3 separate regions of the Homo sapiens genome follow, and regions 2 and 3 are each reported to be linked to region 1. Evidence: microRNA targets listed by miRTarBase, many of them from high-throughput screens and not tested one by one. Region 1 holds a microRNA gene; each other region holds the end of a gene's coding sequence.

Region 1 (5,076 bases):
AGACAACTGACTATTGTAAGGGAAGATTATTTTAAGACTATTTTAAGATAAGACTGGAGATTGGATTTATAATGTGTCAAGTTGATATGACAACAAGAGCACCAGGGATAGCTAATTGCAAATTTAATGGTGGAAGTCTAAATGTTTTCCCTTATAAACCAGAAATAAGGCAAGGATCTCATCTCCCAACACTTTTATTCTATTTGACTAGAGGTCCTCCCCAACGAAATAAGACAAACAAAGAAATACATATTGGAAGGAAAAATATAAAGCTGTATTTATTCACAGACAGCATAGTTGTTTGTATAGAAAATCCTAGGGAATTTACAAGAAAATGGCAATTATTAAAAAGTGATTTACCAATATCATAATATAGAAGGCCAATATACAAAAACCCATTGCATCTCTATATACTAGGAGCAAAAAATAAGAAAATTAAAATTAAGTAATCATTTAGCAACAGCATAAAAATATAAAATATATAGGAATGAATTTAGTAAAGGATGGGCATGATCTTTATAGTAAAAAGTACAGAATATTGCTGAAATTTTTAAATATCTTTATAAATGGAGATATATATATATAGTGGTATCTATCTATCTGTCTATCTATATATATATCTCATGTTCATGTATAAGAAAACTCACATTAATAAGACGTTCATGGCTGGGCACAGTGGCTCACGCCTGTAATCTCAGCACTCTGGGAGGCCGAGGCAGGTGGATCATGAGGTCAGGAGATCGAGACCATCCTGGCTAACATGGTGAAACCCTGTCTCTACTAAAAATACAAAAAATTAGCCGGGCATGGTGGCGGGCGCCTGTAGTCCCAGCTACTTGGGAGGCTGAGGCAGAAGAATAGTGGGAACCCAGGAGGCGGAGCTTGCAGTGAGCCGAGATTGCGCCACTGCACTCCAGCCTGGGTGACAGAGCAAGACTCCGTCTCAAATAAAAATTAAAAAAAAAAAAAGACGTTCATTTTCCTATATTCTTTTACATATCCTACACACTTCCAATCAAAATCCCAGCAGCCTTATTTTTCTTTCTTTCTTTTTTGTAAATGACAGAGTCTTGCTCTGTCACCCAGGCTGGAGTGCAGTGGCATGATCATAGTCCACTGCAGCCTTGACCTCCTGGGCTCAAGTGACCCTCCCACCTCAGCTTCATGAGTTGTTGGGATTACAGGCGTAAGCCACTGTGCCAGGCCTCGGCAGCCTTGTTTTTAAAGACACTGACAAAACTGATTCTAAAAATGTATATAAAAGTGCAAAGGATCTAGAAAATCCACAGAATTTTGAAGAAGAGTTCAGTTGGAGGGCCTATACTACATAATATCCAGACGTTCTCTAGGTCTGTCATGGAGGCTCACACCTGCAATCCCAGCACTTTGGGAGGCTCAGGCAGGAGGATCACTTGATCCCAAAAGTTCCAGACCAGCCTAGACAATATAGTGAGACCCCAACTCTACAAAAAATAAAAATTTAAAATTTCAGAAAGAAAAAAAAAGACTTACTCTAAAGCAGCAGTAATTAAGACAATGAGATAATGGTGTAAGGACAGACATATAGATCAATTGAACCACATTGAGATCCAGAAATAGATTTACACATATATATCAATTGATTTTCCCCAAAGACACCAATGATTTCAAAGTCTTTTCAACAAATGATTTTTATATGCAAAAAACAAACTTTGATATTACCTCATATAATACACAAAAATTCATCTGATATGGACCACAAACCTAAATGTAAAAACTAAATCTATAAAACTTCTTAAAAAATACATAAGATAATTTTTGTGACTTTAAGAAATATGGTCATGAAAGTCACAAACCATAAGAGAAAAATTTTGATAAATTGGATTATATCAAAATTAAAACCCTCTATTCTTTAAAATATCCCTTTAAGAACATGAAAAGAAAAAAAATCCCAGAATAAGAGAAAATATTTGCAATACATATATGAGACAAAGGACTTGCTTTCAGGATACATAAAGAACTCATACATCTCAATAAGAAAAAGACATGCAGCTCAAATTAAAAATGGATGAAAGTCCCAGCACTTTGGGAGGCCGAGATGGGCAAATCACTGGAGGCCAGGAGTTCAAGAACAGCCTGGCCAACATGGTGAAACCCTGTCTCTACTAAAAATACAAAAATTAGCTGGGCATGGTGGTGGGCTCCTGTAGTCCCAGCTACTTGGAAGGGTGAGGCAGGAAAATCACTTGAACCCAGGAGGTGGAAGTTGCAGTGAGCTGAGATCACACCACTGCACTCCAGCCTAAGCAACAGAGCAAAACTCTACCTCAAAAATAAAAAAAAAAAAAAAGATGAAAGACATGAACAGACATTTTGCAAGAAAAGTATATGAATGACCATGTAAGCACATGAAAAAGTGTTCCAGCTTCATTAATCATCAGGGAAATGCAAATGAAACCACTCTGAGATACCACTAGAATGGCTAAAATTTCAAAAACCAACAATACAAAATGTTGTGAGGATGTGGAGCAACGAGAACTCTCATGCATTAATGGTGAAACTGTGAAGTGGTACAACCCTTTTGGAAAAGTTAGGTGATTTCCTATAAATCTGAACACATACTTAACCTATGATCCAGCAATTTCACTTCTGGGTTTTTACCCAAGAGAAATGAAAATGTTTTTCTATACCAAAATTTGTACATACTATTCACAACAGCATTGTCCAGAATAGCAAAAAACTGGAAACAAGTCAAATGTTCATCAATAGGCAAATGCATGGAAAAATTATGATAAATCCATACTCACCAGTAAAAAAAAAACAAAAAAACTAGTGATATGCAAACCAACTTGGATAAATCTCAAAAGCACATTGAGTAGAGGAAGTCACTCAAAAGAGTACAGACTGTATTATTCCATTGAGATGATGTTCTAGAAAAACTAAAATGAATCTATAGTTACAGAAATCAGGTAAGTGGTTACCTGGGATGGGATGGTTAGGATGGGATTAACTACAAAAGAGAAATAGGGAAGTTTCTGGGGTGCTATAAATATTTTGATTGATTTAACAGTTACTGAGTGTATATATTTGTTAAAATTCATCAAAGTCTACATTGAAGTGTATGCATTGTATTATATGTAAATTATGCCTCAGTACAGTAGATTTTTTTAAAATGTTCTCGTAGCTCCCCATTGAACACAGGTGTCATCATGGCAAGACATTTCCTAGCTGAGAGATGCTTTTTCATTCTTTCATTCAAAAAGTAGCTTTTTCTTTCCTTCCTTCCTTCCTCTCTTTCTTTCTCTTTCTCTCTTTCTTTCTTTTCTTTCTTTCTCTTTTTTTTAGTGGCAAGGTCTTGTTTTGTCACCCAGGCTGGAGTGCAGTGGTGTGATCATAGCCAATAGAGGGTGCACAGGCACGGGAGCTCAGGTGAGGCAGGGAGCTGAGCTCACCTGACCTCCCATGCCTGTGCACCCTCTATTATATCACTCGTATGTCTACCATTGTTTGCAGATCGTGAGCTGCTTGATGACTGATGCTAGGGTGACCAACCAACCAAGTATGCCCCAAACCAAAGGGTTTCCTGGGCTTCCTGAGCTAAGGGATGTTCAGTGCTAAAACTGGGAGGCCCAGGCAAACGGGGAAAATGGGTCACCTTATCTGAGACCTTGTGCTACTCATCTCTGAAAGCATTCCCAGGCTTAGCCCCCTATCAGGTGGGTGATGTATGCTCAGTAAATGTTTCCTGAAAGGCTAGAATATGTGTGAGTAGGACACTTGAAATTCTCCTTTGGTTTCCCATGCAAACTGAGTCCTACAGTGAGAAAGCCAAGCGTAGTGGCAGATCCTGCCCCAGACACCAGGCTCGCTTGGGTCCTGCCTAGGGCGCCAGCCTCTCTCCCATGTCATTGGTGTTCTGGAAAGCAGATAAACAACTGACTTCAAGTCCTATTTAAGTTTTATGGGGTAGCCAAGGTCTTCCAGGGCTCCATCTCCAGGAAGCCCCCTCCCTGCAGCCTGGCTGGCTTTTCTTCTTCTTCTGGTGAAGTCATCCGACCCCAAGTGGCCCACAGTTTCCTTTCTCTCCACACCTCCCAAACCCGCTGCCCAGTCCTGGCACTGCCTGGGGTTACTGCTGACCTTTCAGTGCTGTTTGCTCAGAAAGTGCCTTTATGTCAACACAAACAGCCTTCAGGTTTGCCAGGGCCTGGCTCCTTTTCTCCCTGGGGTCCAGGGTAGAAAAACAATAACCAGTGGGAAGGAGAGCGAGCCATAGGGGAGTGACGCGTCCCTGGACCTTGGGTCTCTGTCCTCTCAGCCCTGTCCCTCAGGGCCTCCTTTGTCAGAACTCAGTTCTGTGGGGAGAGGGTACTGGGGAGGCAGCGGCTTTAAACAATGCCACAGTGTCTGGCAGGGAGCTGCGTGCTTGACCTGATTAGGCTCAGTGAGCCCGGGGGAGGGAGGGAGTGAAGGCAGGCTTGGGAAAGTGTTTTCCATCCCCACCCAACAGACTTTGCTTCCTTGTATCTCTGCCAAGACCTCTTTTTGGGGAGGAAAGGCCGAATCGCCTCATTTCTACAGGGGCACCTTGGCCTCGCTCCTCTAAACCTGGGTAAGCTCTTTGACCTGCCTGTCCCCCTCCCTCTTGTCTTTCCTTCCCACCAACCAGCTCCCAAACAGAAAGTGTTTTTCACACTCGCAGCTCTCCCTCCTCAGGCCCTGCCAGGCCCGAAGCTGGGCCCAGAGGCCAGCTGGCACCCACATGAAAGGCCTTCCTGTCGAGAACTGGCATGGAACCCAGGGCCTCAAGGCTGCCCACACCACAGCCCTGGCCCAGGGTCCAGAGCACAGGGCCACGGAAACTTGGCCACAAGGCTCTGGGGAGAAAAACAGCCTGAGCCGCACAGGAGAGGAGCCTCCCATCCCCGCAGCCTGGCTGGGCACATCAAGGGAGAAAGCGCAGTGCCCAGAATCCTTTGAACATGAAGCCGCAGCACCTGCACCTGGCAGAGGACCCGGGAACCAGGGATTCGTGCTGGGGGCAGCACTTGGGGTTTGTTAGTGCAGGTGGAGAGAAAACAGGAGAGTAGCAATTTC
Region 2 (5,076 bases), not on the chromosome of region 1:
GAGTTATAGTCTCTAGCCAGATCTAATTGTTCATGCTTTTTAGTATGTAACAGAATGTAATGAAAGAGTTGGAGAGTGAAATGGGAATGTGAAAAAAACTTATCTTTCAAATTTAAGAAATAGTAATCTAAAAATGACTTCACCCTGGGATTCAAGTTGGCTATCTTTCAGGGTAGTACATGAGAGACCCTAGCTCCCACTAGATCTACCCATACAAAGATGGGCTCCAATACGTGAATTCTTCATCTTCCCTTTCAGGGGACCATTTAAGATTCATCTTACACTTCCTATGATCCAACTCCTTCTGACATATTCAAGCATGCACATTTCTTGTTAGGAAAAGCAAGGTATAGGCCCCTAAAGGCTGAGTTAGTATCAGGTCATTTTTTGATCATTAAAAACCATTAACTAAAATACAAACAAGAGGGGGGGAAAAGCAGAATTTTTAAAAAAAAGCATTTTATGAAATCTGAAGGCAACATAATTATGAAGTTAAAATGTATTCATTCCTAGATTCAATTAACTAAAGAAATGCATTAGGGATTAGTCATTCACCAGTGGTTTATGTATAGTTTTAATATTAGCCTAAATTAAATATATGTAAGAGGATAATACTCTCCGGGGAAGGAAATATAAATCTAACTTCTATTTTTTATCCACACCATTACTAGAATAAAATTCATTAATTTCAGTGCAAATTCAGGAATTTTACGTAACCATTGAAGAAATTTTAATGTCCTACCATAAAATTCTAGATTAACAATTTTTAAAAAAAGACTGAATACAAACTATCTGAAGACATTAATCAAATTTTTAATGTACCAATTTATTGCATATGTCAGTACAGAAAAATAGAAAGTATATTTTAAAAGAAATTTATTGTAAAAAACAAATGTAAATGTTTGCTTGCCATGGTTAGCACACAATGTACTATGACATTCAAATTTGAGTTATAAAATTTTATCACTTCAAATAAAATATGGCAAATAACAAAAATATGATTTACATTATGAAATGGGATTAACTTATTTTATACTGAACATACTTGAATATGTTAAAAACAACTTGAATTTTCCATATACGCTGTACTGACAGAAATAATTATAAATTATGTTAAACACACACTCACCTGTTACATATGTATATACGGCACTTTTTGTAAAAAAGTGTCTCATACATGGTCCTATTTTTAAACTACATTTTAAGATACAAAATATAAATGGAGGTATATTTGCGCCATTTGGCAAAAATGTATAGACTAGTATTAAGATGACTGCATTTATCTTGCCATACAAATGAATATATTATTTCCAATTTGCTAAAACTATGTGTGTATATATATATATAGTATTAAGAATAAACAGAAGTACATTTCATTTTCTACCCTATCAATTTAAAAAATAAATGTCTGTGCTCTGTCATTTCCATCTTTACCTGAGTAATATGAAAATACCTAAATTTAAGTGGATAACCCAAAAGGGTTATGACTAATTTTTCCTCTCACAGTTTTTAAAAATACATATAATTATCAAACATAATAGGAAAATGGGAAAGAAGAATGAGTGGAAGAGTTCAGTATCTCAATCATGACTTAATTAAAAAGTGACTTCTGTGACATCCTTTTTACAAGTTTACCTTACCTATCCCTATCCTCAAGGAGAAAAGGGTCTCCTTAATATAAACTGCTCTTAAGCTATCTGAGCTTGAAAGATAATTTATAAAAAATGAAATATGGCCTTCACTCTTTAATTTCTCCACACCTATTCCCACAAAGCCAAACTTACAAACATAAGAAATTAATATATAAGCATCAGATGGTATGAATTCTCAACAGGTATTACAGCGTAATTACTCCAGTGACATATTACCAAAGCTGTAATCTATGTAAATATCAAGTGTCTACAGGTAATCATAAATTTAAGCAGCCCTGTAGCAAAATTCAGAACACCATTTTTATGAAAATATCCATTTTAACAGTCAAAAACCTAATTGCAAAAACAGGGTTGTTGCAATGGCAAGTGCTCCAGTCACTTTTTGTTAGAAATGCTTTGCATTCAAATGTTTTGCATGATTTCCTTTCACCAATCTCATTAATTCATTATTTTCTACATCTAAATTTAAAAACTGTGTCACACTTTCCTTTCTAGTTGTTTCTATCCTACTAGTATTCTATTACCTGTCACAAATTATTTCTTCTCTTATTTTGCAGAATTCTTTTTAGGGTCCTTTTTATATTTCTTTTTCACCAGTTTTTCCCCCCAATCATTCCCTTTAAAATAATGGATGTGAGATTTTATTCTAAATGAGCTGTATCTTGCCATATTTAAGATCACTCTAGGATCCCCAAATTTATAGTAACTTAATAACTTAAAGTTCTTTTGTAAACTCCTATAGCTGCTCTTGTATAAATAAGTCAGAAGTTAATACACAAGATAGATACATATACTTCCATTCCCACTAAGCAATGGGTCCACAGTAAAGGAGTGACTCCTGAAGAAGTCTCATTTTACTAAAACCAATTGCTTTGGCTACAAAACTAGAAATATTTTCAAAAATGATGCCATGGGCTTCATGGACCCCTGATACTAAGTTTGTTTTCCACCTCTTACCCATCTAAGGAAACAGTCTCAAATACAGATGCTAGTGGTGGTATAGCCCTAGGCACAGCCTCTGCCCTTAGCTGCAGAAAGAAAGGCTCCTTAACCCTAAGAGAATGAAGGTAGGGAACGCCAAACAAGTACTCTACAATTTTTGAAGTCCTGGCTTAAAATTTTAAAAGATAGTTTATAAACCTGGAGTATCAAAAAGAAAAAGCAGCATAAAAGCAAAATACTGATGAAGAAATAGCTTTTATACCTCATGAGCATATTTAGAACTAAAGCTGATAAATTTCTCCCTAGTGTAATGACTGATTACATAAAAACATAAGGTTTTTTTTTGTAAACTTTAAAGAATGATACAAATATAAGGTATGCCATGTAAGCTCGTGTCTAAATATACATTTTGTTGTATTTTCTTTTTAATACATTAATATTTAGAATAGTCATTCTACATAGCAAGGACTGACAAGAATAATCTTTAATTGTGGTGAATTTATACATACAAAATATGCCTTCCATGATATGCATTACCAACTTGTTTTAAAAAGCAAGACTTTTTACAATTAGTAATTTATAGAAAAACATTCTTAGAAATCATACTTGCTATAATTTATTTTTTCTAAATACCGGCATAAAGTGAATAAGAATGCTATTTGGCAAAAGTATTTCTAGCCCTATCTCCATTGAAAGTTTTAAATTAAGGTCAAGATTATTGACCCATTACTTCTCTGTTCTAGTTGCTTGCAGAAAGCCACTAAATATAGCTAAAATATTCAAAATATTATATGTTAAAGCTGACATAATATTACACAAAGCTCAATTACATCTAATTTTTGAGGACTGCATGAAACAACTTGGCACAATTATGACTCATAGCGTGTATTTTTATTAAGTAAATCCTGCAAGTTTCAAGGGGCTTTTTTCTAAGTAAGATTTTCTTACTTTTCTATACATCTAAATCCTACTTCCCACCTATAGCCATTTAACTGCTAAATGTGGTAATAGGTTTTGTGTCAAAAAGCTCCAGAATTCCTTCATTCCCACACTCCTACATGTAAAACTTTTAAAATCAATAAATAAGACTTCCTAAAACTGTCTTTTGATTGTAGGAGTTCTATTTCACAGCAACTGGAACATTAAAACCAAGAACATTGTTTTGTTGTTGTTGTTGTTGGATTTTGTAACTTTTATTTTCAAGAAGTCCAATAAATGATATCTTGCCTTTGATAGGTTAGATATAACTAGGTACTGGGATTTAAAATCAAAGGTGAGAATTTTTATAAAGTAGTATGTACAATCCTGCAATGATAAAAGACTTCCTAATTTAATTCTAAGTAGTGCTAATCTTCACTATGACTGCTATTAGTGGTTCAGCTGAAGACTTACAAAATCGATAGAAGCTAAAATTCTCTTTGCCACCAAAGTTACAAATGTTAAAAAGTTCAAATATGCACATCAAAGCTGCAGTAAAATTCTAAATTTCTATTTCTACATGCCATGATCCAGACTGTACCTAACAAAAACACGGTACATTTGTATTGGAAAACAGGGTCCCATTTATTTGTAAGAAAAAGCTGGATCTCAGCATTCACCAGAGCAAAATTCAATGGCAACCTGCACATAAGTCTCAATTTCACTTCTTGCCAAAAACAAAATAGAGTTTACATAAAAATAGATATAACCCAGATAACCATATACATCAGTATATGACCAGTGCTATTTACATGTAAAATGTTGCATTGCATAATTCAAGGAATAAAATACCATCATGCATTTCATTTAACTTTTAAGGTGAAAAATGCAGTTACAGAACTAAGTTTGCTTACCATGATTGTCCCAATATTTACTTAAGAAACAATACCCAAAGGTTTCTTGTTTACATATCTCTTTCCACATCTAGCTATTCATCTGTGTAACAGATTACACCACTTTAGCAACAAGAAACTTTTGAACAATATCTATTATACTGACATATTAAACTGAAGATATGAATACATAATCACACTGAAAGTTTTGATGAAAATGTATGAAAGAATCCCAAGAATTAGTTTTTCCAATGTAAAAAACTATTTGGAATATCGTAAAGGAGCAGTGAAGTCCTTTCAAAGTTTAATGTCACTCTTCAGACAGGTACAGACATAACACACTTCTAAAAGGAACATTCTTTATCATTCTGCACAAATTAAAATACAATGCAATAATCAAAAAGGGAAACATTATATAATTGTTACATTAGATGAAGTTTTTGCCATTTCTTCAGGAGAATGGCTCTTTACGACTTCTTTGATGAACTGTTCAAGTGCAGTGAAATAGCCTTGGCACTGCCATGTGTCATTGTGAGTCCCATCTGGAAAAATGGCTAATCTCTTAGTCCGAGATGGGGAGAGTTCATAAAGTTGTTTCATCATTACTGGTGGAATTAATTGATCTGAGAGTCCAGAGATGAAAAGTGAAGGCATTCTACACTGAGAGATTT
Region 3 (5,076 bases), not on the chromosome of region 1:
CTTCAATGTGGGGCTGGGGCAGGTGTTCGGGGCAAAGCAGGGCTGGGTAGGAACCGGCAAGTCCCCTTCCCCATTCGCCATCCTTCCAGCCCTTTTCACTCTTCCCTGGGAGCTTAAGGAGCCGCTTAGTGTGGAGGACATTGGCCAGAAAGGCTGCTGGCTTGACGGGGCAGGACAATAGCAGGAGGCAGCAGCTTTGCAGGTGAGAAAACCCCAGAGCCAAAGGCCGGGCACGGTGGCTCATGCCTGTAATCCTAGCACTTCGGGAGGCTGAGGTAGTGGGAGGAATCACCTGAGTTCAAGAGTTCAAGACCAGTCTGGTCAACATGGTGAAACCTCATCTCTACTAAAAATACAAAGAAATTAGCCGGGTGTGGTGGCCTGTGCCTGTAATCTTAGCTATTCAGGAGGCTGAGGCAGGAGAATTACTTGAACCTGGGAGGAGGAGGTTGCGGGGAGCCAAGATTGTGACACTGCACTCCAGCCTGGGGGACATTAAAAAAAAAAAACCTCCAGAGCCGCCCGTGGGGAGCCTGCCTTCTCTGCCCCCCCGACTTCAGGAGGCTTCTCCCATCCCCCAGCCACAGGCCTGGCAGGCCCCGGCTGCTCTGTATTGGCCACCTACACTGCCCCTGGAAGGGCAGGTGAAGGTCTCCTGGATGTTCTCGAAGCTCTCAAGACAGCCCCTCCAGGGTGGCCACAGGTCACATGGGCTCCCTGTCCTCAGCCAGGGGCAGGCTGGGGGAGCAGGGGAGGCCATCTTTGTTACTAGGATCTTTGTGGTTCCAGGCACAGGTCTTCCTACCCGCCCCACTGTGTCCCTCAGCCAAAGCCATTTTCTCTCTGCACCCCACTTCCCTCTATAACACAGGAATAAAAAACAAACAGCCTTCCCTTCAAGACTGCCTGTGTGGCCGGGCGTGGTGGCTCACGCCTGTAATCCTAGCACTTTGGGAGGCTGAAGCGGGCAGATCACTTGAGGTCAGTTTGAGACCAGCCTGGCCAACATGGTGAAACCCCGTCTCTACTAAAAATACAAAAATTAGCAGGGCGTGGTGGCACTTGCCTGTAATCCCAGCTACTCAGGAGGCCGAGGCAGAATTGCTTGAACCCAGGAGGCAGAGGTTGCAGTAAGCAGAGATCACACCACTGCACTCCAGCCTGGGCGACAGAGCAAAGCTCCATCTCAAAAATACAAGACCGAGCGCGGTGGCTCATGCCTGTAATCCCAGCACTTTGGGAGGCGGCCAAGGTGGGAGGATCACGAGGTCAGGAGTTCGGGACCAGCCTGGACAACATGGTGAAACCCCATCTCTACTAAAAATACAAAAATTAGCCAGGCATGTGGTGGACACCTGTAATCCCAGCTACTCAGGAGGCTGAGGCAGGAGAATCGCTTGAACCCAGGAGGCAGAGGTTGCAGTGAGCTGCGATTATGCCACTGCACTCCAGCCTGGGTGAAAGAAACTCAGTCTCCAAAAAGACTGTCGGAGTGGACTGCAGGAGTCAGGGGCGAGACACACGACACTCAATTTGCAGCATGTGCCCAATACACAACAGCCAGTGTGTCAGCAGGGACGCTGCCCCCAGCAGTGGCTTCCCTGCCCACGGGGGCTCTTCCAGGGCAGGAGCATCTGATGGGAAGCTCCAAGCTGCCAAGGGGGGAGATGGGGAAACACCGTGTTTTACATTTGGACTGTCCTGCAACAGTGCACATGCTCCTTCTGCAGCTAACAGGCCATGGGAGACCGTTTCCTCCTCTCCCAAACTGGGCCAATGCCTGCCAGGAGGGGCTGGTCTGGACACTATTCAGCCAGTCAACACAAGGTGGCCTGCACTCGAGGTTCCAGGGATCCCAGGCATCTTTGCGGCTGCAGGGAGCCGGTGTCCTGTGCAAGGGTCTGGTCTAGGACTCTGCCCGGTATAGACTCAGCAGCAGCCTAGAAGGGAGAGTGTCCGTGATCTCTGAACCTACGACCAGCCTCCTGGTGCCCTCTGGTGGGCAGTTGGCCACAATGCCTGCACAGAGCAGCACTGGCCTGAAGCCACAGCCGGGGCCTGACCAGAGCCCCCTGCTGAAGTCTGGGGAGTGGGTGCACATGCAGTCACCGCGCTGGATGCCTCCCATGACTTATTTTTTTCCTCTCAAAGCCCCAGTGAAAATGCAAAGAACTCCACTTCTGAATTGGACAACTGAGGTACTGACTCTGTCCCACTCCCCTAGCATTTCATGGGGCAGAGTTGGGGGATCCACTCACTTCAACCAGTGCAGTTTAAACCTGGAAGCTCCCCTGGGGCCACATGTCTCCTGGCACCACCTTCTGTGGGTGCCAGGGCTTAGGAGGTACACATATAAGGAGTTAAGAAAAACAGAGCTCCGTTCCAACCGAAAAAGAAATGCAAAATCCAAGACAGTAGACAATGTTGTTGTTTATTTAAAATGTTTACTCCAAGAAATATATATATAAAAAAAATAATAAGACAATTACAGCACTAAACCAGGCACCTTCGACCAAATCACAACCTCCTCTTTGATTCCCCTTCACGCTAAGCCTCTTTCAAATTCTTTTTCCTGAGCTGGAAGACCAGTCAGATGCCCGCAGGGTCAGCGCCAAGCACATTCCCAACCGGGCAACTGTGTACCTTTCTCTAGGAGTGCACGACACCCTTCCCCCACAACTCCTTGTTTTAAAGGATTTAACCCATTAGGAAGCCCATTTTTCAATCTAAGCCAGAAGGAGCTGCGGGACAAGGCAGTCTTCACTTTGAAGGTCCCTTTCCTGCTCCAGTCCCTGGGCTAGGGTTCTAGAAGAGGCTGGCTGCCACGTTTACATGAGGCCACCGAAGATCTAAGTCCAGCTAAGCCCAGGGAGGCTCCTGCAAAGGCTGGGACCTCGGGTGCTGCGTCCTCAACCCTCTCGGTGACCACGGCTCAAAGGAGAGACCTCAAGGGTGCCAGGAGCACAGGTGCCTGGGCTGCATTCCAGGAAAGAGACCTGTCCAGGGAAACGGATCAGGCTGTCGCATGGAAGCTTACGTCAGAGATGGTGGTTTTGGGGTGATTTGGACAAATTAGGTTAGTTTAGCAAAGCTCTGAAGTAGCAGAAGCTTCTCCCCTGGACTACTGATTGAACACAGAACAAGAGATGCGCGTGGCGTCAGACTAAGTCTTAGAGAGATGCAGGCCAGTCTCCTCCCACAGGGCCTTGGGACTGGCAGGACAGACACTGCTACATGCCCTCCAAGGGCAGGAGTCACGGTAAGGAGCGACTGGGGTGGAAAATAGGGAAAAAAGCAACAACAACTACATCATTTTTGGCATTTTAACATGGAGACAGTGACAAGTGGTAACAAAGCAAAAGAAAAAAAAAACTTGAAGAGACCAATATTTAACTTTCCCATCCACCCAAGTCTCACACTTAAGTTCTAGTCCCATCTCCCCCATAAGCACCACTGAACTAAATATCTATTTTAAAGCACCCAAACCAGTCCAGACCCTCTGGAAACCAAGAGCCCCAGCCACAGCTGTCGCCTCTCTTGGGTCCAGGCGAGAGGAGGGTTCCGGGAAAGGCACCTCATAACTCACTCAGCGCAGCACACACGGCGGCGAGCTCGGGCACTTGACGAGGACGCAGGTGGCAGTCACAGCATCCGTGCTGACACGCAAGGAAGGGGACTCTTCGGTAATCCCAACTATTTGGTACCAGAGCCAAGCAAACGTGACTAAAGGGAGCTGGGTCAGCAGAACGGTACCCCGAGTCTCAGCAACAGGACGGCCCGCGCGAGGCAGGATCCAGGCGGGGGGGAGAAAAAGAGACCAAAGCACAAGGCGATCGAGGCTGGCACAGAAAGGGCTGATCCTTCTTGCAAGGACTGGAGAATGCACTTGACTGCTGGCTGGTCCATCTCTTAATTGGCGAGTGCGCGTGACAAGGCTCAGCCCTGGCTCCACAGGGAGCCACCAAGCTGACTCAACTGATACAAATGTTCCCACCTCTGCCCCACCCCCAAGTCCCCATGGTTCCACAATCACCTGATTTTCATTTGGACCTCTTTAACAGCTAAAGTAGATATAAATGGCTAAACACAGATCCCCAATCCCCCACCAGGGGGGACACGGCCGATTCTATAATGTCGCAGCCAGAAGGCTGTGGGCGTACAGGCAGCCAAGGGGAGAAACAGAACCGACACCGGCCTAGGCCCATCTGCAAGAAAAAGCGGAGAAGGAGTGACCCGGATGCTTCCGAAGCACGCGAGCGTGATTTTGGATGGAGGCGGGCCGGTGACTGCCTAGCTGCTGCCGGTTCCTGTAAGGGACATTTTTTCTGAGTAAATGGCGATTCCTCTTCCATGTGGCATCTGCTTGGATCACGATGCTAATTGTAACTGGAAAGGGGTGTTTTGGGGAGTGTATTCAGGAGAGGAAGAAAGAAAAAACTTAAAAAAAAAAAAAACCTAGATTGCTCAAAGTTTCTGCCTCTTTTGTAGGAATGGTAAATCAACTATGAGCAAGTATTTTAATTCAACATTAAGGGAAAAAAAAGGACTTTGGAAAGCATACAGAAAAAAAGGTAGTTAACGTTGGATCATGTGTAAAACGGAACCTCAGGGAGTCTAAACAAAAATGCACCTTCGGTCAACTTTTGCTTTTTTAAATTCCTCGTTTGACTTCCCGTCCCAGTGCACATGGAAATGACAGCTGCCGCGAGAGGTGTGGAGTCGGAGGAGTCTCCGGGAGCATCAGAGGGTTCGGGGGTTGTATTCTGGCAGTTTCTTGATCTTCTCTTTCTCAGTCTCACTTTCATCTCTTGCTATCACCAAGGAGTGTGAGTAGCCCATGGCGACCTGGGGGGACAAATCAGCGTTGGGTGTGCCTGAGGCGCCTGGACTAATCAATGCGTTGAAGAGACTCTGGAAACTGGGCTGCTAAAGCGGGTCAGCATGGAGAAAAACAGAGTGCCCTTGAAAACTGCAAAAAGCCCCTCTGCCCAAGACAGCTAGTTTCCATGTGACTGCCACCAACGCTCTGCCAATCAGAGCCTTCCAGGCTGCCCTGGGAGACCCAGCTGGAAGGAA

What was found. Region 1 holds the annotated microRNA hsa-miR-3622a-3p (UCACCUGACCUCCCAUGCCUGU, at 3,428-3,449, shown strand). A microRNA usually pairs through its seed, bases 2 to 8, with sites in the 3' UTR of a target mRNA and lowers its output. Matches are read on the target gene's strand: a 7mer-m8 pairs with bases 2 to 8, a 7mer-A1 pairs with bases 2 to 7 and ends in A, and an 8mer does both.
Region 2: miRTarBase lists ABHD13 as a target of hsa-miR-3622a-3p. Seed matches in the 3' UTR shown: 7mer-A1 at 1,126-1,132.
Region 3: the mRNA of RCC2 is a reported target of hsa-miR-3622a-3p. Seed matches in the 3' UTR shown: 8mer at 4,030-4,037.

What each region holds. Positions count from the first base shown.
Region 1 is chr8:27,698,299-27,703,374 of GRCh38, forward strand. MIR3622A (microRNA 3622a) reads left to right here and starts at 3,379; the gene lies at 3,379-3,461. It overlaps MIR3622B (microRNA 3622b), which reads right to left and starts at 3,469; the gene lies at 3,375-3,469. It overlaps LOC124901920 (a long non-coding RNA gene), which reads left to right and starts at 2,672. Exons shown (of 2, transcript XR_007060869.1): 1 at 2,672-5,076. It also overlaps a transcript of SCARA3 not described here. RefSeq lists a silencer at 4,836-4,981.
Region 2 is chr13:108,229,973-108,235,048 of GRCh38, reverse strand. It overlaps ABHD13 (abhydrolase domain containing 13), which reads right to left. Exons shown (of 2, transcript NM_032859.3): 2 at 806-5,076. The coding sequence ends at 4,817. Among named protein-coding and RNA genes, the nearest start is that of ABHD13, 14 kb to the right of the region's middle.
Region 3 is chr1:17,404,350-17,409,425 of GRCh38, forward strand. It overlaps RCC2 (regulator of chromosome condensation 2), which reads right to left. Exons shown (of 13, transcript NM_018715.4): 13 at 2,411-4,845. The coding sequence ends at 4,741. It also overlaps RCC2-AS1. Among named protein-coding and RNA genes, the nearest start is that of RCC2, 33 kb to the right of the region's middle.